Homo sapiens: one gene and its partners. The protein of the gene in region 4 interacts with the protein of the main gene of each other region in a biochemical or structural test. Each region holds a gene or a part of one and is shown on either strand. Other genes may lie near its edges. The genes, in order: GULP1, ANKS1B, RGS12 and ITGB7.

Evidence for each region.
Region 1: the proteins of ITGB7 (region 4) and GULP1 form a complex in vitro, tested with the Homo sapiens proteins (one study listed by IntAct).
Region 2: the proteins of ITGB7 (region 4) and ANKS1B form a complex in vitro, tested with the Homo sapiens proteins (one study listed by IntAct).
Region 3: the proteins of ITGB7 (region 4) and RGS12 form a complex in vitro, tested with the Homo sapiens proteins (one study listed by IntAct).

The regions. Positions count from the first base shown.
Region 1 is NC_000002.12:188,287,015-188,295,284, reverse strand, and holds the start of GULP1 (PTB domain-containing engulfment adapter protein 1), read right to left. Parts: upstream 3,412-8,270; 5' UTR 3,119-3,411; exon of another isoform or gene 2,674-3,118; intron 2,458-2,673; exon of another isoform or gene 2,105-2,457; intron 1,086-2,104; exon of another isoform or gene 892-1,085; intron 1-891. UniProt on the Homo sapiens protein: May function as an adapter protein. Required for efficient phagocytosis of apoptotic cells. Modulates cellular glycosphingolipid and cholesterol transport. May play a role in the internalization and endosomal trafficking of various LRP1 ligands, such as PSAP.
Region 2 is NC_000012.12:99,974,683-99,982,361, forward strand, and holds part of ANKS1B (ankyrin repeat and sterile alpha motif domain-containing protein 1B), read right to left. Parts: intron 1-7,679. UniProt on the Homo sapiens protein: Isoform 2 may participate in the regulation of nucleoplasmic coilin protein interactions in neuronal and transformed cells. Isoform 3 can regulate global protein synthesis by altering nucleolar numbers.
Region 3 is NC_000004.12:3,435,756-3,440,827, reverse strand, and holds the end of RGS12 (regulator of G-protein signaling 12), read right to left. Parts: intron 1,374-5,072; coding exon 1,144-1,373; 3' UTR 915-1,143; downstream 1-914. UniProt on the Homo sapiens protein: Regulates G protein-coupled receptor signaling cascades. Inhibits signal transduction by increasing the GTPase activity of G protein alpha subunits, thereby driving them into their inactive GDP-bound form.
Region 4 is NC_000012.12:53,203,929-53,212,459, forward strand, and holds the start of ITGB7 (integrin beta-7 isoform a precursor), read right to left. Parts: upstream 3,324-8,531; 5' UTR 3,274-3,323; intron 2,877-3,273; exon of another isoform or gene 2,746-2,876; intron 1-2,745. Other genes in the region: RARG (retinoic acid receptor gamma), read right to left, coding at 7,748-7,935. UniProt on the Homo sapiens protein: Integrin ITGA4/ITGB7 (alpha-4/beta-7) (Peyer patches-specific homing receptor LPAM-1) is an adhesion molecule that mediates lymphocyte migration and homing to gut-associated lymphoid tissue (GALT).

The DNA of each region.
Region 1 (8,270 bases), on a different chromosome or scaffold from region 4:
CCAAATTCTTAAGGAAATTGTTGTGGCCATTAAGAAAAGAAAGTCTGTTTGTATGTCATAAATATATTTCAGCTTCTCAAGCATTATTTCTGAGAAGAGAGCCAAGTTCTGTGAATATACTTGGTAACTTCTCATAAAGGTAAAATTAAGCTGGACTTTAAAAATAACTGGTCTTGTGTATAAATATAAACTGAAATAAAAATAAATGAATGTGCTAATTGTTCTTTTCTGTTTGAGAAAATGACTCAGCCTTAACCATAACAAAATCTCCCTTATATCCTCAAAAATTAAAATGTATGATTAAATTAAAGCTATGATTAAAATGTAAAAGTGGTAATTTTTATAAATTAGATCCAGATATGTCATTATTACATGGGTATTCAACATAGAAGTATTCCTATTTTATCCCCATAAACTCAACTGAGTCAGCTGAGTCAGAAATCCTATGACCTTTATGTCGAAAAGCCTATTAACATTATTTCATCTCTTTAATTCTCACAATAATCTTGTAATTATGTAAAGGAAAGTTTCTTTACTTTGCAAGTGGAAAAACTGAAATCATAGTCAGGGAAAACATTTGGCTGAGGGTGATTCACAAAGTGAGTCTCAGAAAGCAGGCTAATATTCACAATCTCAAACTCTTAAATACAGAGGAAATATAAACCACATTAGTTTGTTTGTTTGTTTGTTTGTTTTAACCATTTAACCCCTAAGCCCACAATAGTAAACCTACAACCCACCTCTCTGAAGAAAAAAAAAAGAGAGATGAAACATACACAACTTTAATACACAAAGAAGAGTCTGAATTGCAGTTAAGGCTTTGAGTTCCTAGCTGGTTTGGAATTAGGAAGCAGTAAAGGGCAAATGTGTGAAATACTGAGATCATCTCACCTTTTACTTCTTTACATGAAAGAGCAAGATCTGTTTATCAGGATCACTTTTGATAAGCACAAAGAAGTCATGCCGGATACGTTTCTACTTTAATTCCATGACCCAAATCCATGCTAGCTGAGAATACGTAATTGAATTATTCAATTTAGGTAGAAAACCATCTGCTCAAACCCTTAAGTCTTCAATTCTTGCTGCTATGAAAACAAAGTAAGGCCGAAGTCAAGGAATTGAAGTTGCAGCAAACCTCGTCCAAGGAGACAAACAGCAACAAAGTGTGGGCATTTGCAAAGTATGATCAGCACAAACAGCATCAGGCCCCCAGCTATTCCACTGCAACACTGATAAGGAAAGTTCAGACTTTGCTCCTGGAGCCCTTTTTGTAATTTCCTCGGTCATATCCAACTGCACTCTATGCTTAGTTTATTTTTTTGCCAAGAAGACTGATCTTAGCCACCTAAAAATTCTCATTGCAAAAGAAACCTCTTGTTTAAACCCCAAGTGCAACCGACAGCCCCTTTCCAATTAGCCCCTGCAACTTGCCCAGTCTCTTTCATGCCTGGCTACTGAGCTCAGTCTAGTTTGGCTGCCGGCCAGGTTCCTCTCTTTTTTTCCTTGTCAGTCGTAAAAACTTGGAAAACACTCCTGGACAGCTCAAGGAGACCTTTAATTATGCAGTGGGGCAGTACCTTAGCCTGTCTGCTGTTTCCAGCAAAGCCTGTAGTCACCAGCGACTGCACTCTCCCAATTTGTGGGTTTTCCAGCCAAGGCTACTTGTTCATATGGGGGGAAAAGGGAAAGACTGGCAGAGAAAGGGAGCAATTTGCAAATTTGAAGAATTTCCAATTCCTCTGAAAGTTTTCCACTTCCTCACATTCACTCTGTCTAATAATCTCCCTTACTTTAGCACCTAATCACCCATTTTGTAATACAGACACAAAATCATCAGTATTGTCTCCTGCTAGTCCTAGAAATCAGTCATGACTTGAACATTCTCCGTAACTTTTTATTCTCAAATGTTGGTGTAACGTATTTTAAAAGCAGGCACAAAATAAATTTATTAAATCCTTCCTAATTGACTGCATTACACTTTGTCAAACTTGCAGATTGAAATAGTGCATGTAAAATGTCTGATTGCAAATGAGTAAGGCGAGCTCAGTTGGGAAACACTACTAGGACCTAGGGAGGGGTACCTTGACTGCCAGCCCTCACTTACTTGGAGTTTGCCCAGCGTACCAAGTGGACCCGCCAAGCCCAACACCAGCTAAGTCTTCCTTACTCTACCTTGGCACGCTAGTTCCAGCTGCAGCGTCCAGCTTCCTGTTCAAGTCCCATTCAACATCGTAAACACATTCCAAGAAAACCAGCCTGCCCAGAGTTCCCTCCCGCACACAGGGAAGTCAGCGCGGCAGCCGCAGGAGCCTCAGAATAGAGAGAACTGCCTGCTCCGGATTCTGATCCGTGTGGCGAGTGAGGCCACGAGAAGGTGGACCCGGCCAAGCGAATTTAGCAGTCGGAGCGAGAACCCAAGGGCTCATCACCCCCGCCGCGCCTTGCGCCCTCCAGAAGAAGCTACTTGACCCGCGCAGCAGAAGGGTAACCATGTGGACGCCGCCCCTTCCTTTGGGCCCTCCCAGCTCTGAGCTTTAAAGTATCCGCGGCCCGGCCTCGGAGCTTCGCGCCTCCCCACCCCCATGCCCACATTCTCTCCCAGCGCCAACAAAAGGGAGGCTGCCCTGGAAGTTCGCTCCTGGGTCGCCTCGCTGTGACCCGACGATGACTTGCCTGCTCAGCCCAGTCTGATCCACGCACCCTCAGCCGGACGGATCCACGGTTTCCCCACCGCCTCCCTCCAGTTCCTGCTCACCGGCCCCCCGCCGCCGGACCAAAGTTACCACAAAAGGCTAAGGAGGTTTCTGGAGCCCGGAGACCGCTGCGTCCCCGACCTCGCTGGACTCCCCCAGTCATTTCTCAAGCGCTGCCATAGCAGGCGTCAACAGGTCTTAGCCTCCTTTAGTGCTGGACGACTCCCTGAGCATTTAGCTGTCCTAATTTTTTACAACCTGCTGGCCAGCGGCTACGCGCAGCCCCGCGCCCTCCTTCCCGGGCACTGGTGGCCGGAGCTGTCCACCCCCACCGCCCCTCGGGATATCAGCTTCTAAGCGATTCCACGCTACCTGGAGGGAGCCTGGGTTCGCAGCCAGGGAAGAGCCTAGATAAATCTCCGTACCTCACTGAGAGAGGCAGTCGGGTCAGGCTTCGGGCAGGGGCGTGGAGAGCTGCCGGTTCCTCCGAGCCTGGCGATCTCCACTCCGGCACGGCCGGGGCGCCGTCTCCGAGGCCGAGAGGGAAAGTTTCTCTACGCCAACACGGCGCTGGACTCGGGACCCTCCAGCTTCGGTCCCCTCCCTCTTCGCGCTCTCTCCCCCCTCCCTCCTCTTCCTAATCCGCCGAATCCAAAACTGGCGCTGGCGGCAGCTGGGACGCGGGGCTGGGGACTCCGGGTCGCTCCCGGCCGGGAACGCCGGGCTCCCCCTCTCGGTGAGAAGGAAACTCTAGCCGACTCCGGCTTGCGCACTTCTGGCGGTCTCCTTGGACATTTCCACACGGGACGCCTGTGTTCAAGCTCGCTGACTTTCCTTCTTTAATCTCTGATGGTCGTTATCTGTGGGCCCACTGGACTATCTCGCGCGTGCACGCGGAACCGGAGGTGGGTGGAGGGTGGAATGAGAGAGAAACCCATCCGCAGAAGGAGGGGCCCTACCTTACTCAGTCTTCAGCCCGGACAGAAGCAAAACCACAGGCCCCCTCTCCCACCCCACTCGCGCCGCGTTTCCTTTCCAGCCTCTTCCCTGAGACACTAGATCAGGACCATTTGCCTTTTCTTATCTCTGTGTGTTTCCTAACACAATTTTAAAACACCTCTGAGGCTTCATAGAGGGGTAAAGTGTCAAAAGAAATACACGAATAAGAGTAAAACGTGCCGTCTTCACAGCCTTTATCAAGAAAGCAGCCACAGTTGCTGCTGCTCTGGCCGCACCTCAGCGGACTGGTTTGTCCTCATTGGTTTGTCCTCATTTGTTTTTTAACTCGGCCTTAATCTCTGGACTTTGTTATGCCTTAAAACAGACACACACATACACACACTTGAAAATTGCCTTAACCCCCAGATCATACTCATTTGTTCCATTCAGATGTTTACCTCGGAATTAAGGACTTCTGTATAGGATTTGAGAGAAAACACAACAGCCCATTCTTACTGACCTTTGGTAAAGTTCTGCGTGGGAAAGGGAGCAAGAAGGAGTATCCTTATATAAGAAGTTCTTCAAGGATGAGAGGACCTTTACTAAAATTTTTTCTGCTGCTCAGAATTTAGTTTACTAAATTTTAGTTTGAGTGTGAAAATAGATGAGAAAAGGAAAAAGGCATTTTGCAAAGCTAGCAGTTATAATGTATTACAGTGGATCCAGGGCTTAGAGTCAGACAGGCCAGATTCCATTCCAAACTCCATCTTTACGCTTTCTGTGCCTACCAATTATAACTGTCAACAGGAATTCTATAATCTAGCTCACGGAGTCACAGTCACATTTACAGGAGTTAAAATAGAGTTGTGATAGGCGCAGAGAAAATACTCAATAAATATTTGGTTCTTATATCCCACCATGTTTTACTGTAATTAGGAGAGAGGGTGGTGCTAGAAATTTTCCCCCAAAGACCCTGTAACTGAATCAGTTTTCTTCTCCTTAATGCTTTTTCCATTTAAAAAGGCATCATTTCACAATTTTTGAAATGGAAACTATGTTTACAGATTAACTAGTTCCAGCTGAACTCCCTTATTTTAAATACAAGGTAACTGAAGTCTAGGGCTCTTAAGTGACTTTCCCCAAATCTCATGGTTTGGAGGTACTAAAGCTAATATCAGAAATCAGTCCTCATAATAACTTGGCTGGGGTCCTCTTTTAACTGTTTTTCTCTTTATCACAATAGTCAAGCACACATAAAAATAATTATATTAAAAATATTAATCTCAGGACAAATGCTAGTTTTTTTCTGTAAATAACTCTTAAGCAATTAATTTATGAACAATCATTAAAAATTAAATAATGTCATTTAGATGATCACTTGGTATCAATGTGATTATAAAAATAAAACAAATGGTAGTCCAGTATTTAGGAATAAGGAGGTTGATGAGATGAACGAATCCATGCTTACATTATATATTTACACATAGATATTTTGGGTTTTTTAGCCATAATATTAAAAGATTATAATAACTCTCGATTCCCAAGAATACATCAACATACCACTACAGTTGGCTGACCCTAGTTTGTGAACAACTAGATCAGTGTTCAGGACACACAATTCAACTTGAACAAGTTCAAGGCCAAAGAACAAAATCAGGCTACAGAGATCAAACTTTCCATCCTGTGAAATAATGGAAAATCCCATAGCATGTACTTATTTCTCATTCATTTGCCTCTAGTACCTGTAAGAAGGTCTTTTTAAAAAATTCTTCCTTACCATATACAATGTTGAAAATCATCTGAACATTTACATAACTAACTCCCATGTTCTCAGGGATGAGACCCTATATACTCCTTCTAAGTAAGAGTTATTTACTACTCCGGCCTCATCCTCAGTTTCCTAAAGGCATATCATAGCCTCTTTAGAGATCTGTCTTTCCTATCCATAAGACTTGGAAGATCCTAAAGAGGGAAAAAAAAATATGGCTACAAAGCACATCCATCATGAATGGATAAATGAAGATAGATGAGTCCTCATAACTGTCTTTTTCCAATCGTTACATACAGTGCTAAAGATTACTCACTTTTATATTTTCTCCCACTGTTTAAAGTCTTTAAACTTGCTATTGCTTTGTAATTTTTATAACCTGACTTTTGATATGATCTTCTTTGTGAAATGGCTTAGAGGTATAAAAATCTCAAGAGTGTCAGAACCAAGTTTTTAAAAACAATAGAACCAAATGGAACAAGATTTTAAAACAAATTTATAGCATGCCCCAGGAAGTGAAGAAGGGAGATGCCAAAGAAAAGGGTTGCAGAAGCCTAGCAGGGCACTACGATGACAAATACGCCTAATTTTACCTACTGCAAATACCTCAGATTTCCATTTGAAAGTTCTTCACATTCATCATAGGTTCATATAGACCCTGATAGAAACTCAGCAGCTTTCCAGTAATTTTTATTTTTATTTATTTATTTATTTTTTTTTTTTGAGGCGGAGTCTTGCTTTGTCGCCCAGGCTGGAGTGCAGTGGTGCGATCTTGGCTCACTGCAAGCTCCGCCTCCGTGTTCACACCGTTCTCCTTCCTCAGCCGCCCGAGTAGCTGGGACTACAGGCGGCCGCCACCATGCCCGGCTATTTTTTTTTTTTTTTTTTTTTTTTTTTGTATTTTTAGTAGAGACAAGATTTCACTCTGCTAGCCAGGATGGTCTCAATCTCCTGACCTCGTGATCCACCCGCCTCGGCCTGCCAAAGTGCTGGGATTACAGGTGTGAGCCACCACGCCTGGCCTCCAGTATTTTTAAATTAATTTTCTTGCTCAAACCAGAATTAAGTTTCTCTTACCCTAACTAAGGGAACTTTGGCTAAGACAAAAAAACGACCTGTTACTTACCTTAAGAAAACCAATTTTATTTCTGATTATTGCAAAAGCACACAAAAAATATGCTGGTTGTTTAGCCCTATATTTCTGCAAAACCAACATTTAAAGTATTTGACAACTTTTTAAAAACTGTAATGAAAACCAAGACTGAAATTCAAATTTCAGTCATGTGATTTGAAAGGGGGTCATGTTTCTGTTTGTCATGTGTAACAGTGGCCAAATATCCTATGAGTTCCTAGGGGCTCTGGGTTCCAAAGTTACTGTGTTACATTTACCTTCAAACCTCTATCATTTTATCTGTCATTCTGAAAGAATCGCTTTATTTTGATCTTCTTGATTAAGAACATGAAACATGACCATTGCAAAAAAAGAAAAAAAAATAGGAGGGCAACTGCAAAAGGGAAATAAATATCACCTGTATTCCCATCACCAAAAGTACCTATTGCTCACATTTTCTCTATATGCTCCAAGGTTTGTTGAGGCCTCTGAGAGACCCGGATAAATAGTATCCCTTCTTTATGCCTGGGTGGGGAATAAATTGACCAAAAAAATGAGAGCAAAATATTACTCTATGATTGACAGATAACGGATTTGAATTGGTAGATCCAAAAGCAAAGAACTGAAACAGCAGCCTCAGTCAACGTAGTTCCTGGCCTCCTTCTAACCTGAAAGGAGACAGTGCCTTTGAAAAAGGATTTAAATTGTTTTTTGAGTTCTATTCCAAAGAATGAAAGAGAGAGAAAGGTAGTTGAGCCTGGCATGCCCAGCAATTCTTCCCAAGTTTATTCCTAAGTTTATCTACCAAATGTCATAACATCTCTCCAAGGGCAAGTAAGTAAAGACCCAGTAAAATATTTTTGCATGGAAACCAGGAGTAGAGGAAAGGCATTACCCAGCACCCACAGACACTTAACAATTTTCTTTCCATTTTTTTCATGTGGAAGTATAACGTACATACTACTCCTTTTTTTTTTTTTTTTTTTTTTTTTTTTGAGACGGAGTCTCCCTCTGTCGCCCAGGCTGGAGTGCAGTGGCGCGATCTCGGCTCACGGCAAGCTCCGCCTCCCGGGTTCACGCCATTTTCCTGCCTCAGCCTCCTGAGTAGCTGGAACTACAGGCGCCGCGCCACCACTCCCGGCTAATTTTTTTATTTTATTTTATTTTTTATTTTTAGTAGAGACGGGGTTTCACCGTAGCCAGAATGGTCTTGATCTCCTGACCTCGTCATCCGCCCGCCTCGGCCTCCCAAAGTGCTGGGCTTACAGGCGTGAGACACTGCGCCCGGCCCATACTACTACTTTTTTGTAAGTATTCTTTCAAAATATTTATTTTCATATGCATTTTTCGTTTACCTAAATGACATCATGTAAACTATTCCATCTTGGCCCTTAATTTTTTTTCTCCAAACACTTAAATTTTCAAATAATCTTAGTGAAAAATTAGCAGCTCAATCGCTTTAATTTTTATTACTTTCACTGTTAATAAAACTGAATAAGTTTTCATAAAGTTAATAACCGTTTATATTTTCTTTTGTGAGGTGGCTATTTATATATTCTGTACATTTTTCTCTTTTCTCTATTGTTTCATATATTTTTTCTTTTTCTTATTGATTTTTAAAGGTTCTGTATGAGGTAAATATATTAACCTCTAGCCAAAAAACGGGTATTTGTCTTATTAACTTAATTAAAATAATTAAATTATTTTGTTCTATTTTAAAACTATGTAGAATTTCTTTAAATGTAATCGGTTTATGATT
Region 2 (7,679 bases), about 47 Mb from region 4:
GAGTTCAAGAACAGCAAGGCAGGAGGATCACTTGAGCCCTCAACAACAGACCCCAACAGACAGGGTTTCCCTATGTTGCCCAAGTTGGTCTTGAACTCCTGGATTCAAGTGATCCTCCTACCTTGGCCTCCCAAAGAGCTGGGATTACGGGCATGAGCCACTGTGCCTGGCCCACAAATGTTCTTAATGGTGTCTAGCATGGTCAATCCTTTCCAGAAGGTTTTCAATTTACTTTGCACAGATTCATCAGAAGAATCACTATGTATGGCAGGAGTTTGAGGAACAGTGAGGCTCTGTCCTTATAAAAAAAAATCAAAAAATTGGTTGGGCATGGTGGCACATGCTGGTAGTCCCAGCTACTTGGGGTCTAAGACATGAGAATCACTTGACCCTGGGGGGCAATGAGGCTGCAGTAAGCTGTGATTGCACCACAGCACCCCGGCCTGGGTGACAGAGTGAGAACTTGTCTCCAAAAAAATGGAAGAATTACCACCTGTATCCAACATTCTCTTACGAGCCTGGCAAAATCCACTCCATTTGTTCTGCCAGAAGAGGTCGATGGCTTTACTATTTTGGCCTAATGTTTTGTTGCCTCTTTAAATGAAAATACGAAAAGAGCTGCTTCTTTCTAAAAGCTTTACCAATCAATTACAACTTCACTATGAATTAACTGTCAGGTCCCACAAACACTTTTTGGTGGTAAAGAAAGGAAAGAAAAGGCACTGGGTCCATGACGTTAGAGGATAAATTAACATTGAGGTATAAGCATTCCCTTTCCTCTGCAGCCTCACCAGCATCTATTGTCTTTCGACTTTTAAATAACAGCCATTCTGACTAGTGTGAGATGCTATCTCTCACTGTGGTTTTGATTTGCATTTCTCTGATAACTAGTGATGCTGAGCATTTTTTATGTTTGTTGGCCACTTGTATGTCTTCTTTTGAGAAATGTCTGTTCATGTACTTTACTCATTTTTTAATAGAGTTACTTGTTTTTTGCTTGTTGACTTAAGTTCCCTATAGCTTCTGGATATTAGGCCTTTGTCAGATACACAGATTGCAAATATCTTCTCCCATTCTGTAGGTTGTCTGTCAGTGTGGAAGGTAGTACAGAGATTTCTCAAAGAACCTAAAATTGCTACCATTCGACCCAGCAATCCCATTGCTGTGTATATACCCAAAAGAAAATAAATCATTCTACCAAAAAGACACATGCATTCATGTTCATTGCTGTGCTATGCACAATAGCAAAGACATGGAATCAATCTAGATGCCCATCAATGGTAGACTGGACAAGAAAATGTGGTACATATACACCATGGAATACTAGGTAGCCATAAAAAAGAATGAATCCATGTCCTCTGCAGCAACATGGATGGAGCTGGAGGCCATAATCCTAAGAAAATTAACACAGGAACAGAAGACCAAATACCACATGTTCTCACTTATAAGTGGGAGCTAAATATAAAGCATATGTGGACATAAATAAGGGAACGAAAGACACAGTGGACTACTAGAGGGTGGAAGGGGGGTAGATTAAAAAACAGCCTATTAGGTACTATGCTCACTACCTAGGTGACAGGATCCATGCTCCAAACCTCAGTGTCATGCAATATTTCCATGTAACTAATCTACATACATACTTCCTGTATCTAAAATCTGTTGAAAATTTTTTTTAAATATTCAGATAGGCTGGAATCTAGAGATGATGCCAGCTGGCACAAAAACTGGAGCCAGGGTGAACTTGTAGTAATTAGAAAAAAACGCTTTTTTTCTGAGATGTGATTGAGGAGGGTTAAAGGGAATGTGGTGTGGGAAATAGAAACAGGAAAGGAGGTTGGCTGTTTATGCTCACATCCATCAATCAAGATTTGATCCAATTTGATCAAAGAATGGTAACAAGTCTAAGCAGTTTGTTTCAGTTCAGTTAACTAGAAGTGATTAACCACTTCAAATAAAGCTACTCTCATAACACAATAGAATCCAAATAACTCTACTGCACAGCTTAATCAAAGTTCCATTTCACAACTAGATCCATGAAGACATGTCATTTAATAAGAAACATGATTCATAAGAATCAGATTCAGAGATGAACACTCTGGACAGTGCAGTAGAAGAAACAGAGTGTCTTAGTCTATTTTGTGTTCCTATAAGAGAGTACCTGAGACTGGGTAGTTTACAAACAATGTATGTTTTTGTGATTCACATTTCTGGATGCTGGGAAGTAAAAGAGCATGGTACTAGCATTTGCTCAGCATTTGGTGAGGACCTTCTTATTGCATCATCCCATGGCAGAAGGCAGAAGGGCAAGCAAGCATGGGCAACAGAAAGAGGAAATTGGGCTGAACTCATTATTTTGTGAGGAGCCTCCCATGACACCTAACCCACTCCCACAATAATGGCATTAATCCATTCATACATGCAGAGCCCTCATGGCCTAATCACCTCTAAAAGATCTCACCTGTTTGTTTTGTTTTTATTTTGAGTAGGGTCTCACTCTGTCACCTAGGCTGGAGTTCAGGGGCATGATCATTGCTCACTGCAGCCTCAAACTCCTGGGTTCAAGCAATTCTCCCCACCCAGCCTCTCAAGTAGTTGGGGCTACAGACGTGCAATGCCACACCTGGCCATTTTGTTTTGTTTTGTTTTTTATAGAGACAGGGTCTCACTATGTTGCCTAGGCTATTCTTGAACCCCTGGCCTCAAGTGATACTCCCGTCTCAGCCTCCCAAAGCCTGCGATTACAGGTGTGAGCCACCACGTCCAGACAGATCCCATCTCTTCATACTGTCACAATGACAAATAAATTTCAACATGAGTTTTGGAGACAACACTCAAATCATAGCACTGTGGAAAACAAAATTTATCCTTTGGTCATATTTTTTGATCCATCTTCAAATATCAATTAAAAGCCTCATCCAGATTTAACACAAATGTAAAATGTATTTGATATCCTACTGACACCAAAGAAGAAAAGTAGACTCTTAAGAAAAGTTTCTAGATCTGTATTACACAAGAAAATTCAATGAGTTTTCAACTGGCATTGTGCCTCTGCCTGCCCGTACGGCTTACATAACCATGTCCTCACATGCATGAGAAAGAACTGGAAGATAGAAGCGTCTTCTTTGTAAATTCCTTTTTCAAATATAAAATATTCTCCCATATCAACATATGATGAGTAATAAAAACTCACTGTATTTTAATTAACTAACATCATTCTGCAATATGTCCAAAACGGAAACTAAAGACACTCTAAAATGCATTAAGTGTTAAATATCTTCAGGTTCCATAGGTTGAAATTAGTCTTTTCTAACCTTTGTCTGGCATTATAGTCAGCTTCCATTTCTAGTTAAATACTCAGGAATAATGTTCTATCATAGGCTTCTGATAGAATTTTCCAAAATTACCTCAAAATTATTTCAGTATATAACTGAACTAATCAAATTGTTTACTGTCACCTGAAAGGTTAAGTTGCTAAAGTCAGCAGAGGCACTAATAAATATTATATGCTTCTGCCTTAATGTCAGTGAAGACTTGCATCAGCCTTTGTCATCTGTAAGAAATCGAGTCACACAAGAAACTGTGCAATGGATGGACAGGTTGAGTAGTAGTCACTGGCTGGCTGCCCTAGTTCACTGCTACACATCACCCTCAGTGTTTTGAAAAGGGAGCTGAAAACCCTGCTCAGTGGAGAAAGAGGTCAATACCAAAATTCACCCTCCTTTCTCCTTACTCCCCATCATGCAGCTGGCACTGTTCACTCTGGCAGATACAGCTCCCTGAACATAATGGTGCAATCACCACTTCAAACATCATTACTATCTAAAATAGATAACCCACTTGCAACTTGACTATTTTTATAGATATAACATTTTCATGGAGCTTAACTGCTCTATTTGTGATTTATTCCATTTAACCAATGCAGTTTCCCTGAAAGTGAGTTTCTTATATCAGGGTCCCAATAACCACAATTGCCCAAATAGTTGTGAAAATTACAGTACTTCCTAGTTGTCTGTTATCTCCCTGTATTCATCACCAAAATGACATGAGCTGAATCCTAAATCTGAAAAATTATAAGCTCTCTGGTTTTTATGTTTTTGGTGACCAGAAGATTGTTTTGCTCCACTTCTTATTGATCTACTTTTTCACATGGGGATCTTAAGAACTGTATTATTTATTTCTGACAAGAATTTACTAAATACACCTTATATAAAACTCAACTCTTCGAGGCATTAAGAAAATCAAATAAATTGAGGCATTAATAAAGTTTTATCACTGTATTAAAATACAAATAATTCTCTATCCTATACTCAGCAAAAAATTAATTAAATATACATTTTAAATGGAAATTAGTTTTGTTTAGAATAAAAGGTAGTTGTGCCAAAGGAAGAGAGGTTTTTTTTTAAGATTTTGCAGCTGTCTCATAAAAGATATGTTAAATAAACTGAAATTTCACATAAAATGTAGAGGAAGAAAAGGAGGGAGGCAACTCAATTTTAGTGCTCTGATGAGCTCAGATTTCTTTAAGGATGAAAGGGGGTAGTAAGAGGTATAACTGCAAGCAAACACAAAAAAAGAAATATATACTTGTCCAGGAAAAATGCTAATGTCCTTTTTAGCTAAGTTTGAAAAAGAGAAAAGAGGTGTAACAGTTCACTAATTTCACCTTCAGTTCTGGCAGAGTAAAAGGAAAACTGTGGGTAGTTTTAAACCACAAGATAATTTTCTATGATATCTAACAATGCCAAGAATCTAATTCTTCCCAACTTTTATTTTGCTTCTATTTTCCCTATTGAGAACCATTTTCAAATCAGAAGGGATAAACAAATAACTTCAGGAGATTACTGAAGGTCCAAACGAGACCATAAGGGACAGTAAGCTGCTTTAAATAAGTATGCATATCCAGACCCAGAAGAATTAGATGCAAGAGGGTAGAAGGAATTTTTGCCAATACTAGGAATTACCAATGGCTCACTGCCAGAAACAAGCCATAATAAAGTAGACTGATTTTGATGGAATTTAAAGGATAGATCAAAAGAATGCCATACACTTAAATACAGTGTGAATTTAGAAAGGCAGTAGATAAAATACCTCACAATATTCTCACAGGAACAATGGAGAGAAATAGCTGATTGTCATTGCGTGGCTTCAATCCTGGTAGAAATACCATGAGTAAAGACTGTTACTTTTAAATTTATACTAAGTTGAAGAGAGGTGCTTTGGGGATATAGCACAGTGTGTTGAATTTAGGTTATAGAAAACATGCTTATTACATCTCTGGATGATACAGGGGAGAGAAGTTAATACGCTGAAAGACAGACTCAAGAGTCAGAAAGAAGAAAAAAAAGAGTCAAAAAGATATAGAGAAATTACAAATACAACATAAAACAAATCAGATAAAAAGGAACAGGAATAATTTAAGCTCAATCAACACTTTTAAAAGTACCAGAAAGGGGACCTGGCTTCACAGGTCATTGAAAAAAAAAAATACCAGGAAATTTTAATTGACTGTATGTTCAACATGAGCCAACACCATTACATGGCCCAGAAAATCTTGACCTGTAGGTAGGTCTTAGATCAATAATAAAGAGATAATAATTTCATTGTATCATGTTTTAATAGCTGCTATTTTATTTTAATTACATAATACATATTCATTACAGAACACTGAAAATAAAGCCCAACCACAATTCCACCACTCAAAGATGAATACTATCTTCATTTTGGCATCTTATCATTCCAGACTTCTTAAGCACATTATAAGTGTTCAAACAAACTTATTTTTTCTTGCAAAAATAAGATCATACTATAAATGCTTCTTGTAACCTGCTGTCCTTGGTTTTCTTATTCAGCCATAATGTTCTACTCTGGTCAAGGGACATCTACTGCATTTTGTGAATTTCTAGTCACCATACTTTAAGAGGGTCATTGCAAAATTTGAGAATATGTAAAGAAGGAAAGAGAGAGTAGAGAAAAGTATGAAAACTAAGTTCTTAACATCTATGCTGTCTTGCCATATAAAAGGTTAACAGAGATGATAGCTCTTCCATGAAAAATACTTATAAGAAAACAAAAATACATGCATCTAAAGAACTATCCTGCAGATGAATTAGACTGCTTTATATTGACCCATACAGCCAATCTACTACCAATTGCTGAAAGTCACAGGGAAGTGGATTTTAGCTCAATGAAAAGAAAAATTTTAAAATAATTACAGCTGTCAAAAATAGAATGAATCTAGTCATTGGAAGGTTTAACAGGGCTGGAATAACTAACAGGTAAGAAATGTTACAGAGAAAATTTCCGCACTAGGTGAGAAGTTGGAAGAAAGTTCCCTCCTTATTTGACGATTCTATGATTGCTATGGGAAATTTACTCCCAGTCCAATAGGAAGCAAATCTTTAGTCATTAAGGCCTTAAAGAATACAGTCAAGTGCTTTAGAGGTGCATGAAAAATATTAACACTAACGATGAACACCTATATGCTAAATGTTTTGCATTCATTACTTTATACTTCATTTAATCCTTATAATGATCTTATATGATAGGTACTATTATTACTATTTCCACTCTGATAGAATAGTGAGGCTTAGAGAGGTTTTTAAATTTATTCAATGGCATTCTTACATTTGCTGAAAATTGCAGTGCCACCCAAAAGCATACCTGATTCCCCATTACATAGTTACTGTTGAAAGGATAATTTCTTATTACCAGTAGATAACAAGTAATCAGAAGCATCTTCAGAAAAGTTCTTGTCTAGTGAACCCTCAAAGGGCAGTTGTGAGATTTTTTTAATTAGAAAAAAATACCAAAATTTAAGGAATTTCAAATTATTCTTCATAGCAAAAAATGTTCAGATTGGCCTGTCTAAATTGGCCACATACCTTTAAACTTTTGTGAATAAAACAGATTCAATGAATGAGACTTAAAATGTTGTAAAACAAATCTGAATCACAGATTTTCAAATCTTTGCCATTATTAATTAAGTGACCATGGGCAAGTCCTTAATCTTATCTTTTTATTCCTTCATCTGTGAAATGACAATGGACCTCCTAAGGCTGACACAAGAATTGAATGAGATGACACGTGTAAGCACTTAGCATAGGGTCTGACACCATTATTACACAACCCAGGTAATAAAGCAAGCGGGGAAAAAGTGCCAAACATATTCTACAGTTCCTTCTAAAACATTAAGAAATTTCAAAGTGTCATTATGTTTGACGGGGGACACATTTTCCATTATCCTGCCAATAAATTTCTGATGACAATCATTTTTGAAATAAAGTGACAACTAAATAAAATGTGCCTTCTTAGGAATGTCATTTTATGCAAATGATTGCCCAAAGAATACAATTTCAACTCTCATTTTCTTCAGACACTATTCAGTATAAGATGGATAAAAGCAAGTTTAAAGGTTATTGGTTTTGTTTGTGATTTTTACAACTTGGTTCGAAGTACTCTAATAAACACATGTTGTTTACTTTTGTTTTCTATGTGCAATCTTTGTTGTAGAGCTACTACTACTACTACTACACCAGCAAAAGAGAAAACCTCTCACTCAAGATATACACTGTGGGTCACTATTTTGATACTTTAGTGTCCACTAACATTAAATACTTGGTGTTTTATCCCTAAAACTTGACATCTATTCTTTAAAAAAAAAAAAAAAAATCACAGCTGGG
Region 3 (5,072 bases), on a different chromosome or scaffold from region 4:
CACGGTGAATGGGGGGTTGGGGGTTGGGGGGGAGGTCATGGTGGGCCCTGGGGCACGGTGAATGGGGGGTTGGGGGTTGGGGGGGAGGTCATGGTGGGCCCTGGGGGCACGGTGAATGTGGAGGCATGGTGGGTGCTGGGGGCACGGTGAATGGGGGGTTGGGGGTTGGGGGGGAGGTCATGGTGGGCCCTGGGGGCACGGTGAATGTGGAGGCATGGTGGGTGCTGGGAGCAGGATGGATGCGGGCTTGTGGTGGGTGGTACACACAGCTGGCACTGGGCTTCATCTTCCATTCCGACCCCTCCCCCAGCCCCCTTCCTAGAGCACCACTAAGTGGGGTGCATCCACTCCCTGGAAGCTTCTAGAACAGCCCCAGGGGACTGGCTGTGCTCTCGGGCCTCTAGGATGGTCTGAGGAGCTCACCAACCACCCTGTACCGAGGGTACTTGGCTTTAGGGGTTCCATCAAGGCAACCTGGGGAATGGCCCTGCCTCTTCCGACTCAACCCAGCCCCCAAGGCCCCGGCCTCCCCTGCAGCCACACCTGGTTCCCTTTCTGTAATCAGACCCTCCTTAGCCCCAGGGCCTTGGCACAGGCCCAGGGCTCTTTCTAGACTTCCTCTGCCGTCCAGTTGCAGTTTACATGGTCCCTCCCCAGAAAGGCCCTCAGACCACCCTGCTAAACAAGGCTGGGGCAGGGTCCCCACGTGACGGCGAGAGCCAGTCTCTGCCATCTGGTCCTGGCCCTCAGGCCCCAGGAGCCAAGCTTCCCTCTCCTCAAAGCCCCCTTGACCTTACCCTGGGGCACTTCTCCTCCTCAGGCCCCTCTGTTTCCTGCATGACCTCCTGGGGATGTGCTCGGAGTCCCCGAGAACGAGGAGTCTGTGTCCCCAGCACCCAGCACCAGGCCGACGCTTGGGTCCTCAGAAATGCTTTATTGGGCAGCAGGAGGCCAGGGCCAGGGAGCCCCATGGCCAGCATGGCGAATGTCCGGGGCCAGTGCCTCCAGCGAGGTCACCCCCTGCCCTCCTGGCTGGGCTCCTGAGGGTGTGGTGGCCAGGGTGGCCCCCCTGAGGCCCACAGAATCCACCTGGGCTGCCCCACCCCGACATGTCCACAGGAGAGTTGGCCAGGCCAGGGCAGCTCAGACGAAGGTGGCGTGGTGAGCGCTGGTCTTGGGCTTAGCAGGCTCACCCGGGACGGGGCCCAAGCCAGGGAGGTCTGATGTAGGAGGCCCACCACTGGCCTGCGACCTCCCAGGGCCAGCCTGTGCCCCCGCTATGCCACCATCCCGCCCGGGCGCCGAGCCAGTTACAAGATCCACATCGATGATTCTGTTGACTGGGAGGTCTCGGCTGCCATGGGTCCCACTTCCTGTCACAAGGAGAAGAGAAGCTGTCACTTGCCTGGCCCGGCCCTGGGCCCCCGGAACCCACCCCCTACCCCGAAGGCCCCTGCACAGACAGCATGGTAGGGGTCCCTGAAATATCCCAAACACATCCCAGAGGCAGCTGGCGTCCCGCTGTGGGCCTCCAGGCTGGGGCAGGTACGCCCAGGGGAGGTGCAGTGTTCCCAGAGCCCTCCACATAACACCTGCCACCAAGTGGGGGAGCCGACCCACTCAGAAACCCTACCACCCTGCTTCCCCACTGCAGCTCAGGAACAGAGCTGGGCCCCCGGCAGAGCCCCCGCCCCAACTGCCCCCCTAATTCCTCCTGGGGGCGTCCTCAGGGGCCCCCCCAGGCCCAGGGCCCATCCTCAAGGGCCACCCCCAGGGGGCTGAGCACTAGGGTTCAGTTCCAGATAGGCTGGACCCTCTTGGCCTGGTGGAACGGGCCCTGAGCCCTGTGTCTGCTGCCCCATCCCACCCTGCCAGGCTGGCCACCTGCTCGCCCACCTGCCTCGCTGCCTCAGCACCGTCTTCACCGTACACACCCTGCTCTGGGCCTCCCGGTCGTGTCCCCTCCCCCTCCATCCCTGGCCCCCCTACTGAGGCCCCTCTTTCCGGCTGGTCAGTGACTCTTGCCCCACTTCTGGCTCCAATGCCCACTCCAGCCCCAGGAGATCCCGGCTGCCTGAACCGGCCTTGGAAGCTTCTAGACCCAACATGGGCAGGCCATCTCCTTGCCAGCACCCCCGGGAGGCCTCCCTACCCAGGGCGTCACTGCCCTGCCACATCTGGTGACCTCCACGTGGACCCCTGGAAGACACAGTTGTGTCTATGCCAGGGTGGAGTCCCCAGGGGCCAACGAAGGCTGGGGCCAAGGAAAGTGAACGGTGCACGCAGAATGGCTGGGTTCATGTGCCGCCCGGAGCTCCATGGCAGGACCCCAGGGCCTGGGAAGGGGCAGTGAAGCCCCCGTGCTGGGAGAGCCCAGCCCTTCCCGCCCACTGACCCCACCCCCCCATCTGTACGGTGGGGGTGACGTTGCCGACCCGCCCAGTGACCCCACCCCCCCATCTGTGCGGTGGGGGTGACGTTGCCGACCCAGAGGAGCAGGCTTCGGGGGCAGGTTCCTGCGTACCTAGCGTGTCTCCTAGGCAGGGGTCCAGGAGCTCCCTTCCTCAGTGAGCCTGGGGCTGAGGCCCTGAGACAGTCATGTCCATGCCAGGGTGGAGGCCTTGAGGCGCCTATGGGGTGGCAGGAGCCCCAGGCCTGGGCCCACAGCAGACAGGAGGCAGGAAGAGCCAGCCCCCGGCACATGAGAACCAGGGACAGGGGGTCCCTGCTACCAACTGCTGCCCTCCACAGGTGAATCGAAGGCCTGGGAAGGTGAAGACCCTCCTCGATCTACAGTTCTGAGGTCCCTGAAATGGCCGCAGGGTCCTTGCTGCCCCAGCGGCTCCGTGGCCACCAAGGTCCCCAATCCCAGCGTGCCCCTCCTCACCCTCAGTCCAAGCTTCCGGAAGCAGCCTCCATGAGGCATCTGTGAACAAGTCCGGGCTGCGGGCGGAAGGTGTGACTCCCCTCTTGAGCGTGCCCAGCCCGTTCTCTTGAACAGGTCCCAGCAGTGGCCCCAGAGGCCCTCATCCTGGCCTCGACGCAGCAGCCCAGCCAGCATGTGGGAGCTGTGTGGGGCCTGTGTGTCTTACTCAGCCAGGCCCGGTGGAGATGCCATCTGGAGGCCCAGGGGTCCATGTGGAGCAGCTGAGACTAGAAACTTCTCCCAGTCAGGCCTCTGCTCATTCAACAAGTGTCCTACTAGGTTCTGCCAGGGCTAGGAGCTAGCCCTGCCCCCAGGGGACAAGGGGACAGTTCTGCCCATCTCCTTCTTGTCACCAGGTCCGCATGGCTCCAGATGCCAGGCTGCAGGGCTGGGAGATATCGTGTGGGGAGAGGCAGGGGTTTGCCCCCTCTCGCCGGTCAATACCGTGGGCATTTGGGCATTTGCCTGGAGTGTTCATAGGGCTCTGAAGGGGCCTGCAACACCACACATGTCCAGAAGCCCGGCTCTACCCCGCCAGCCCCACATGGACAGATGGGAGGACAGGCCCCTGAGGGCCCCAGGAAGCTAGTGTGCTCAGGATGGAGAAACACTTGTTTCTGGAGACAGGACAGCTCTGTATGGACCAAGGATGTCCACATCACAAGGAGGGGGCCACAGCCAGGCCCTTCCTGCCTACGGGAGCCAGCCTCGCCCTCCTGTGCAGGGCAGCCAGCCCCAGGCCTGTGACTCAGCTGCCTGGCCCCGCCCTGAGCAGCACGCTGCCTCACCACCTACATGCCAGGGCCTGCCCGGGGAGCACCTTCTTGCCCAGCATTTCCCTGGCAGGGATGGCAACACAGAGGACCCAGCAGAGCCTGCACCACCTCCAGAGGGGCCTGGCCTCCTGGTCTCACTCCTGGTGCCACATCTCCAAACATCCAGACCTGAGGCCACACTGGGATCTTGTTCCCTGCCGCTTGGGCCACCTGTGAACCTCTCCCCGGCGCCCCACGGCTCCCTGCCCTCGGCTGGCTGGTCCTGCCGGCTCCGACTGTGCTGTCCAGCCTTCCCAGGAGGGGGTCCTGCTGGAGGCCCCACAAGATGCAGCAGGAAGGCCCCTCTTTCCACATGCGCAGGCCCCTCACCGGCTGCCGGTCGCCCCCAGGCCTCCCAGACACTTGTCCATGAATGTCTCTGTGCCAGCCACTGCCAGCTGCTCTGGCCTAGGCCTGGGGCAGGACCCCGCCCCACCCTGGTCCTCAAAGCTGAGTCAGGAACCCTGGCAGGCACAGCGGGAGCAGGGGCTGCACTGGCCTGGCCGGGGCAGGGGCATGGCCTGAACTCTCCCAGGCTCTCCTTCGAGACCCAGGCCTGGCACCTCTCCCACTGCCCGCCCTTCCTGCCCCCCGAGGGACCCCGTCCCCCAGGCACTTTGCTCAGCCTCTGCCTCCATGCTCCACATCATCTGTGCTGCCAAGCGCAGCCACCTCCTCTGTGAAGCCTCCCCAGCGCCCCTTGGAAGCTCGCAGGGCACAAGGACACCCAGGCAAGGCTGAGCCGGCTCACACTGAGAACACGGCAGGAAGGGGGGAGCGAGGGGAGCCAGAGGCGGGGACCCTACAATCCACTGTGGCTCCCAAGGCCCCTTCCCTTCCCAGCCTTCCCACCACAGCGCACCCCACGGGCTCCTGCTAAGGCCTGTGCACTCCTGCTGATGGGCCCCCATGGGAACGAGAGCACCCCCAGAACCTTAGTTCCAGAGTGTGACCCCCCCAAGGTCCCCCTGTCCGTGTGGGTCCCCAGCCAGGATCATGACTGTGTGTGATGGGCTGGGGCTGGGATAGAGCTCCTCAAATATTTGCTGGGCATTGGCGAGGGAGTGGACAGCGCCCAGCAGGGTGCACAGTGTGGTGAGTGGGGAATAGGGGAGTGGGGAATAGGGGAGTGGGGGTGACTGAGGGCACAGGAGTGCATGTGGCAGACCCCAGGGAGGGGCTTCAAGCCGGAGCTCCAGCAGTGCGGGCTGAGATGGGCACAGGTGGCCAGTCCTGGAGGGAACATGGGGGTAGGCCAGGTCACAGTCACTTGCAGGCCTGAGACTTCCACTCTGCAAGACCTGGCTGGAACTTCAGGTGGAAGGCAGACA
Region 4 (8,531 bases):
AAAACAGGTGTTCAAACAAAAACTGGTACAGAAATGTTCACAGCAGCACTACTCACAATAGCTAAAAGGTAGAAAGAACCCAGATGTCCATCAACTGATGAATGGATAAAGAAAAGGTGGTATATCCATACAGCAGAACGTTATTTGGCCATAAAAAGCAATGAAATGGGTCTGGGCACAGTGGCTCACGACTGTAATCCCAGCACTTTGGGAGGCCGAGGCGGGTGGATCACTTGAGATCAGGAGTTCAAAACCAGCCATACCAACATGGTGAAACCCCATATCTACTAAAAATACAAAAATTATCCAGGCATGGTGGTGGTCTCCTGTAACCCTAGCTACTTGGGAGGCTGAGGCAGGAAAATCGCTTGAACCCAGGAGGCGGAGGTTGCAGTGAGCCGAGATTGTGCCATTTCATTCCAGCCTGGGCAACAAGAGCAAAACTCGGTCTCAAAAAAAAAAAAAAAATGAAGTACTGATACATACATGCTACAACATGGATGAACCTTGAAAACATGCTCAGTGAACAAAACCATTCATGAAAGGTCACATATTGTATGATTCCACATATGGAACATATCCAAACTAGAAAAATCCACAGAGACAGAAGGTAGATTAGTGGTTACCAGAGCTTGGGAGAAGGGGAAGTGGGGAATGACTGCTTAATGGGCAGTTTCATTTTAGGGTGATGAATAAGTTCTGGAATTAGTGAATGTACTTAATGCCACTGAATTGTACACTTAAAAGGGGTAAAAATGATAAATGTTTGTGTATCTTACCATTTTAAAAATCAAAAAGTTAAATAAGATGGTGAGAAATCTCCTACTCCATATGCCATACCCAGTTCCCACACCTACCCTAAATAAATATCATTTACTACTATCTTTGTTTCTTTTTTCTTTACCTTTTTTTTTTTTTTTTTTTTGGCAGAGTCCCACTCTGTCGACCAGGCTGGAATGCAGTGGCGTGATGTACAACCTCTGCCTCCTGGGTTCAAGTGAGTCGTGTGCCTCATCCTCCTGAGTAGCTGGGATTACAGGTGTGAGCCACCACACCCAGCTAATTTTTGTGTTTTTAGTAGAGACAGAGTTTCACTATGTTGGCCAGGCTGGTCTCGAACCCCTGACTTCAAGTGATCCACCCACCTCGGCCTCCCAAAGTGCTGGAATTACAGGCATGAGCCACTGTGCCTGGCCTTAAATTGTTTCTAGTTCCCTATGACAAATAATGCTGAAATGAAAAGTAATGTATGTATTTATTTATTTATTCATTTGAGAGATAGGGTCTTGCTCTGTCACCCGGCTGTAGTGTACTGGTGCAATCATGGCTCACTGCTGCCTTGACCTTGCCGGCTCAATTGATCCTTCCACCTCAGCCTCCCGAGTAGCTGGTACTACAGGCGCATGCTACCATGTCTGGCTAATTATTTTTGTATTATTTTGCAGAGATGGGGCTTCCCCATGTTGCCCAGGCTGGTCTAGAACTCCTGAGCTCAAGCGACCCACCTGCCTCGGCCTCCCAAATTGCCGTGATTACAGGCGTGAGCCATCACCCCCAGCCAAATGTCATGTATTTATCATTTCACACGTCTGCAACTGAATCTGTAGGATAAATCCCTAGCAGAGGACGTGCAGGATAACTAGATAGGTATCATTTGTAATACTGGTGTGTATTTCATCTACATTCTCATGCTAAGAAATATATATATATAGGTGGGTATTGCCAACATAAACTCTTCAGGACTTGTACTGGTCCACATTCCCATCAGCAATGTATGAGAAAGGCCAACTAACTCCTTGTCATAAACCATTTGCATCTTCTTCAGCCTGGGCCCAGAGTCAGGTCCAGATACTCTGCACAGAGTGTGGGAAAGGGGTGGGGTGTTGAGTCCTTGAATGTCCTGGTCCTGCTCCCCACCACCTGTGACCTCAGGCGCCATATATAACGGAGCCTCCACCCCTCGGGGAGAGGCCAGTCCCAGCTCAGCCTCAGCGTAACCTCAGCCCTGCTTGCTCTGCATGCCTGTGGTCAGGGAGGCTGGAGATGCTGCAACCCAAAGCCGGGTTTTGACTCATCTCTCACAAGTGGAGCCCCGGCTGCCGCATAGGTTTTTCAGAGACCTTAGGCCCACTCATCTCCCCTTAAAGGGGGCCCTGGGACTTCCTGGACAGCCCTTTCCTACCTTTCTTTCCAATTATCCTCTCTTCTCCCCTCCTTGAGAATACATGTTCTGCCACCTATTTCTCTGTCTGCTTCTCTGTCTCTCTCTGGCTCCTTTCATTTCAAAACTTCTATTGCATCTCTCTGCTGCTTTTCTCTGCTCCACTTCTTCATAGGGCTATTTTACTTCCTTTTCCCCTCTGTTCCTAACTATAGAATGGCTGAATCTACTACTCCATCCCACTCTTTTTACAAATGGAAACCTAAATTCCATGAGGCCAGGGTCACCCAGTGAACTAGGGGCAGGGCAGGACAGGGCAGGGCCAGGCCTCTGCTGTGCTTTCTCCTTTCCTCCCTCCAACCCAGGCACTATCTCCATCAAAAGTTGTGTTCTCTCCCCACTAGCCCTGGTGGGCTCTGCCTAATCCCATTTCTCTTTCCTTAGGGGTATTCTGCAGTCTTCCCTTCTCTCTCTGGGACCAAGTGGTTATTTCCATTTTTCTGGACTCCATTCTGACTCCAGTACACACCCTGTGACCCCCCTCAGCAGCTGAGAAACAGAGCCTCTTCCAAACCCATCCCTACCTTCCAAATCAAGCAGAACCCTCTGCTGCCCACTGGGAGTCACAAGGAGGGGACGGAACTGAGCTGCTGGGCCTCAGTGTCCCAGGACAGTGGAGTCTGTGACCAAGGTGCCGATTAGGAAGAAGTCTGAGCTGAAGGCAGAGCATTAGGGATAGCAGCTGGGGGTGATGTTGGAAGAACCCTCCCTCAGTATAATCGGTATACCTGCCCTACTTCGGTATAGTCCTTGGCACATGGCAGGCACTCAGATGACAGCACTCATATACATCCCTGCCTCCAGACCCACTCATGGGAAACTGATGCAGGAGAGATTGGGCTTTTGGAGAGGTGGAGGTGGGGGTACTGTGAAACTGGAGGAGGGAACCAGGTCAGGGGATCTTAGGAATGCAGAAAGGAGTTCAGAGCCTTTCTCAAGTCTGGACAGGACCCTCGGTATCCAGGTCAGAGCCCTCTTCCCAAGAGGTTGGGACCAGGTGGGCCAGAGCTTGTAAGGAGAGGAGGCAGAAGGGCTGGTGCCCTGGTACTCACAGGTGCGTGCAGAGCAGTCCTTCCTCTGGCGGCAGCAGCAGCCTTTGTGTACTGATCTGGGAGACGGCAGAGGAGGAAGTGACACTCCCCAGGGTGGGGAAGATTTGGGGTTGGTGGGGGTGACTGATCTAGAAGGTGGTGCAGATAGGGGTGGGGCTGAGCCAAGGGAGTGGACAATACAGAGATCTGGAAGAAAGAAGCCCATTTATTGAACCCCTGTCATGTGTTGAACGTAACATATTACAATTAACCCTCACAACAATCTCATAAGATAGGGGTTAATATTCCCCCAAGCCCCAATTTTACAGATGCAGAGATTGAGGCTTGGAAGCAGGAAATAAAGAATTTTGCCCAAGGTCCCACAGCTAGTAAGTAGCTAGTCTAGGATTTAAAAAAAAAAAAGAAAAAAGATTTTTATTTTAAATTTTTATTATTTTATTTTTTTTATTTTAATTTAATTTAACTTTTGAGACAGGGTCTTGCTCTGTTTCCCAGGCACAATCTCAGCTCACTGTCCCATGGCACAATCTCAGCTCACTGCAAACTCCGCCTCCCAGGTTCAAGCGATTCTCCTGCCTCAGCCTCCCGAATAGCTGGGATTACAGGGGTGCACTACCATGCCCAGCAACGTTTTATATTCTTAATAGAGACGGGGTTTCACCATGTTGGCCAGGCTGGTCTCAAACTCTTGACCTCAATTGATCTGCCCACCTCGGCCTCCCAAAGTGCTGGGATTACAGGTGTGGGCCACCATGCCCAGCCTGTTTTTTATTTTTGAGACAGGGTCTTGCTGTGTTGCCCAGGCTGGTCTGTAACTCCTGGACTCAAGCAATCCTCCCACTTTGGCCTCCTGAGTAGCTGGGATTACAGGCACACTCGGCTGGTCTGGGATTTAAATCCAGGTCTGCCTGCCTCCAAAATTCATGATCTCTCCATTTACTTATATAGGAAGGAACATGATAGGAGGGAATAGGGGCAGTAAGTACTGTAGAGAGGCCAGAAATTACAGACTTGTTCATTTTGAAAACCCAGGATACATTATATAAGTGTGCTTGACTACATAGGCTCTGGAGCCAAGTTGCTAGAGTTCAAATCCTGGCTCTACTACTTACTAGTAGTAAGGAGCTTAGCTGAGTTACTTAAACCTGCCTGCAGCTGTTTTCTCATCTGTCCAGCAAGACTCACAGGATTGTCGTGAGAATTAAAAGAGATAATTCATATCAATTGCCTACAAGACTACCTGGCACATACTAAGTAAGGGCTTGATAAGAGAATTAGTAGGGATGAGAAGTAGCAGAGGTGAGAAGTGAAGAGGCTTTGAGAAATTCAAGGTCCACACAACTGGAAACTTGGAAGAGAGAGGCATAGGGCCAGGCTCAGAGCATGTGATTGGGGAACCAGGAGCCAACACAGTAGTGGATCCTGGGAAAGGGGTGGAGGAGGTGAACTGGGAGAAGCAGAGAGTGCAGGAACAACAGCTGAAGCCAAGGCAAGGATGAAGCCCGTAGGGAGAGCAGGAAAATATTAATGGGATTTGCTCCTGGCCCATACAGATCACTAAGAGCTTTGAGAGGGAACTAGACATGAGGTCTGTGTTCACAGGTCGATCTCCCCTACCAGAAGGAGCACTCCTTGTAGGCAGGGACTGGCTCTACAAGGCTTCCCTGCTGGAGCCACCACACCTAGCCAAGTGCCCATCTTATAGTAGGTGCTCAATAAATGTCAGATGGATTGCAGAGGTGTAGCTGCTAGGAGGGGACAATTGGAGAGGAGGGGCTCTTTCTCTGGGTGGGCTTGGCTGGCCTCAGGCTATGGGATAGCCAGGACCTATACCCTTCCCCCACAACCAGGGGTTACCACGGCAATGACCCTCCTTCCCCACAGGCCCTGTGGTTTCCTCTAGAGCTTCTTTCACTTTCTTCTTCTGCTTTCCGCCCTCCACTCTTCTCTCCCCTACTCCCACATCCTCAACTTTTTTGTCATAACCACAGGTCACCAATGAAGAGAGCCAGGAACAAGGTAGGCAAGGCACTGTCCCAGGGAAGGTAGGACACGGAGGAGGGGCTTGAGGGGAGTCACAGAGGGCGAAGGGAAGAGTACAGGGTGCAGCAGTAGAGGCCAAAGGCACTGCAAAGGCGTGTTGCAGAGGGAAGGCGTGTGGGAGCAAGGACAGATATTCGGAAAGAAGGTAACAGTGCAGGTGGCAGTGAGTGGAGGTCATGGGGTGAAGAGTGGGAACAGAGAGGGTGGGGGGAGTAAGGTATAAGGTGATAGCAGGGTGGTTGGGGACAGAAGGCCAGAGGGCTCCCTGGGTGAGGGGCTGGTGTAAAACAGTAACACTGTAGCTTAGATGCGGGCTTCTTCTCTTCTGGGGCCAGGAGCCCTCATGAGAACTAAATGAAACTTCAGGGCAGGCATGGTGGCTCACGCCTGTAATCTCAACACTTTGGGAGGCTGAAGTAGGTGGATCACTTGAGGTCAGGAGTTCGAGACCAGCCTAGCCAACATGGTGAAACCCCATCTCTACTAAAAATACAAAAATTAGCTGAGCATGGTGGTGCGCCCCTGTAATCCCAGCTACTTGGGAGGCTGAGGCAGGAGAATCGCTTGAACCCGGGAGGCAGAAGTTGCAGTGAGCCAAGATCACACCACTGCACTCCAGACTGGGCAACAGGAGTGAAATTCCGTCTCAAGAAAAAAAATGAAAAACAAAAAGATAAATAAAACTTCAATGGACTCCTTCCCCAGAGAAAAGCAGATATGCACATATGCATAACTGGAGGTGGAGACAGGCTTACAGACCTCTGAAGTCCATTCATGCCCTCCCAGAGATCCACAGGATCCAACATAAGAACCCACACCAAGCTAGACGCAGTGGCTCACGCCTGTAATCCCAGCACTTTGGGAGTCCAAGGCAGGCGGATCACCTGAGGTCAGGAGTTCGAGACCAGCCTGGCCAACATGGCGAAACCTGTCTCTACTAAAAATAAAAAAAATTAGCTGGGCGTGGTGGTGCACCCCTGTAATTGCAGCTACTCGGGAGGCTGAGGCAAGAGAATTGCTTGAACCTGGGAAGTGGAGGTTACAGTAAGCCGAGATCACACCACTGCACTCCAGCATGGGCGACAGAGTGAGATTCTGAACCCACACCTGGTGGTTGTGGGAAACCCGGTCACTCAGGGTGAGTCCCCATGGGCTCCCTTTCCCCCATCCTGTCCCCACCACAATCCAGGCACACTTCATCCTGTTTTCTTCTACCAAGAAAGCTGCAAAGTCCAATCAATTACAAGCTTTCCCTCCTCACTCAGCTCCCTCACCAGGTCAGCTGGTCATTTCCCTACCACCTCCTAAAGGGAGCCACATCTCATGAGTTTCCATCACTTTATTTTGCAAAAATAGAAAACTCAGCAATATGCGATACAGCGGGGTAGAGGGGAGATGTAAACAGAGGGGAGGGGACAGCACCCTGACCCCCCAAGAGAACACAGGGAGCCAATGGGAATCTTATTTGGCAGCTAAATACAAACTGGGGATTGGAGGAAGAAAGGAGGGGTCACAGGGGCCCTGGGCTCCCCCACCCAAGACCCCTGGAGGAAGGGGTCAATTCCACGGTGTAAACAAAAGCTAATAAATAAATAGAGGCTTCCTCTGGGTCAGGGCGGGATCAGCTAAGCAGCATCCCCCCTCCCTGGGCCAAGCTGCTCTGGGGAGTAAAGGGTGGAAGGCACTAGGGAGAGAGGGATCCCCTGGCCCCTCTGTAGTGTAGGAGGGTCCCTGCCCCAATGGCTGAGATGGAGGGCAGGAGGAGCCCAAGGCACATGACAGGGCTGGGGGAGGGACTTATAACGGAGGGCACAGGGTGAACTCTGCACCCGAGCCAAGAGGTGCAGAATGGACCTGCATCTATCTGTCCCTTTCACCCTCTGTTCCTGCCCCAGAAATGCAGGGCCCAGCCTGCCCCCACCTTGACCTGGCACAAGGACGGGGCACAGAGGCTAGCACACACCCTGCAGGTGCATCACACAGCATTAGGCACCAAGGGTAGGAGCAAGAAGGTGGGCTCAGCCCTTCTCCTTTGTCCCCTTTTTGGTCTCTAGTGTTCCTGTTTGCTCTCAGAGAGCCAAGCACCTGGCAGAGGAAGGGGCTGTGGAATGGCAGGGTCTTCCTCTTGCCCTGGGAAGTCTAGGACCCATGGGGCAGTGCTGAGATTTTAGAGTCCAAACCCAGGCTCATCCCTTTGCCCTCTCTCCTGGTGGGAGCAGGGCAGGCCCCCGGGACTGGCGAGGGAGCCGGTTAGATCAGGAAGGGGATGAACACAGAGGCACCCCTAGAAACTTTGGCAAAAACAAGGAGCTCATTGGAAGGGGTGGGGAGAGGGCAGAGCAGGTCCTCCCCCAGTCACTGGCGGTCTGGGAGATGGTCAGTCTGCTGCCTGAAGCCCCAACCCCCACAGCGGGGAGGTCAGGGGCCCTGGTCAGGCTGGGGACTTCAGGCCCCCTTTGCCCTGGCCCCCAGGAACCTCATCCTCGCTAGAGGCATTGGGGTGGGGACCAGGCTGCGAGGAGTCATCCTCAAACATTTCAGGGTTCTCCAGCATCTCTCGGATTAAGGGAGGCATCGGGCCTGGAATCTCCATCTTCAGAGTAATGGCCCTTTCAGCTCCTACAATGGAGAGAGAAAGAGAGAGGCTCAGGAGGACAGAGGCACATGGCCCTTAAGGCCATCTCCCTAACCTTTCTCAACTGCCCCTGACTCCCCTAGGGGGCGCCCAGCACAGGCCCACCACCTCTCCGTCCCCAGCTCATCCTCTTCTCACTAGGCTTCCTGGGTGCCACTCCTCTGCCTGGAACCTCTACCTGGCCTTCTCTACCAGGCTTGCTGCCCATTCATCCCATTCTTTCAGGCTGTCTCTTCAGCGAGCGCAATGCACACAACTTCCAACCCCACTCCCCAAGTACCCCACTCTCGAATGTCCAGAGCTTGTCACTTGTTCCTAGTCCTGTTCTCTTAATAACATTTATTACCACAGCTAATATTTATCAAACACTATGTTCCAGACATCCTTCTAAGCCTGGACTGTCCAATAGAACTTTGCAATGATAGGAATACAGTAGTCATTGGCCACATGTGGCAATCTGAAATGTGACTACTGCAACTGCAGAATGGAATTTTTAATTCAGCACAATTCTAAGTACACTGTATATGTTACAGGTTTTTTTTGTTGTGTTGTTGTTGTTGTTGTTGTTTTAGAGGCAGGG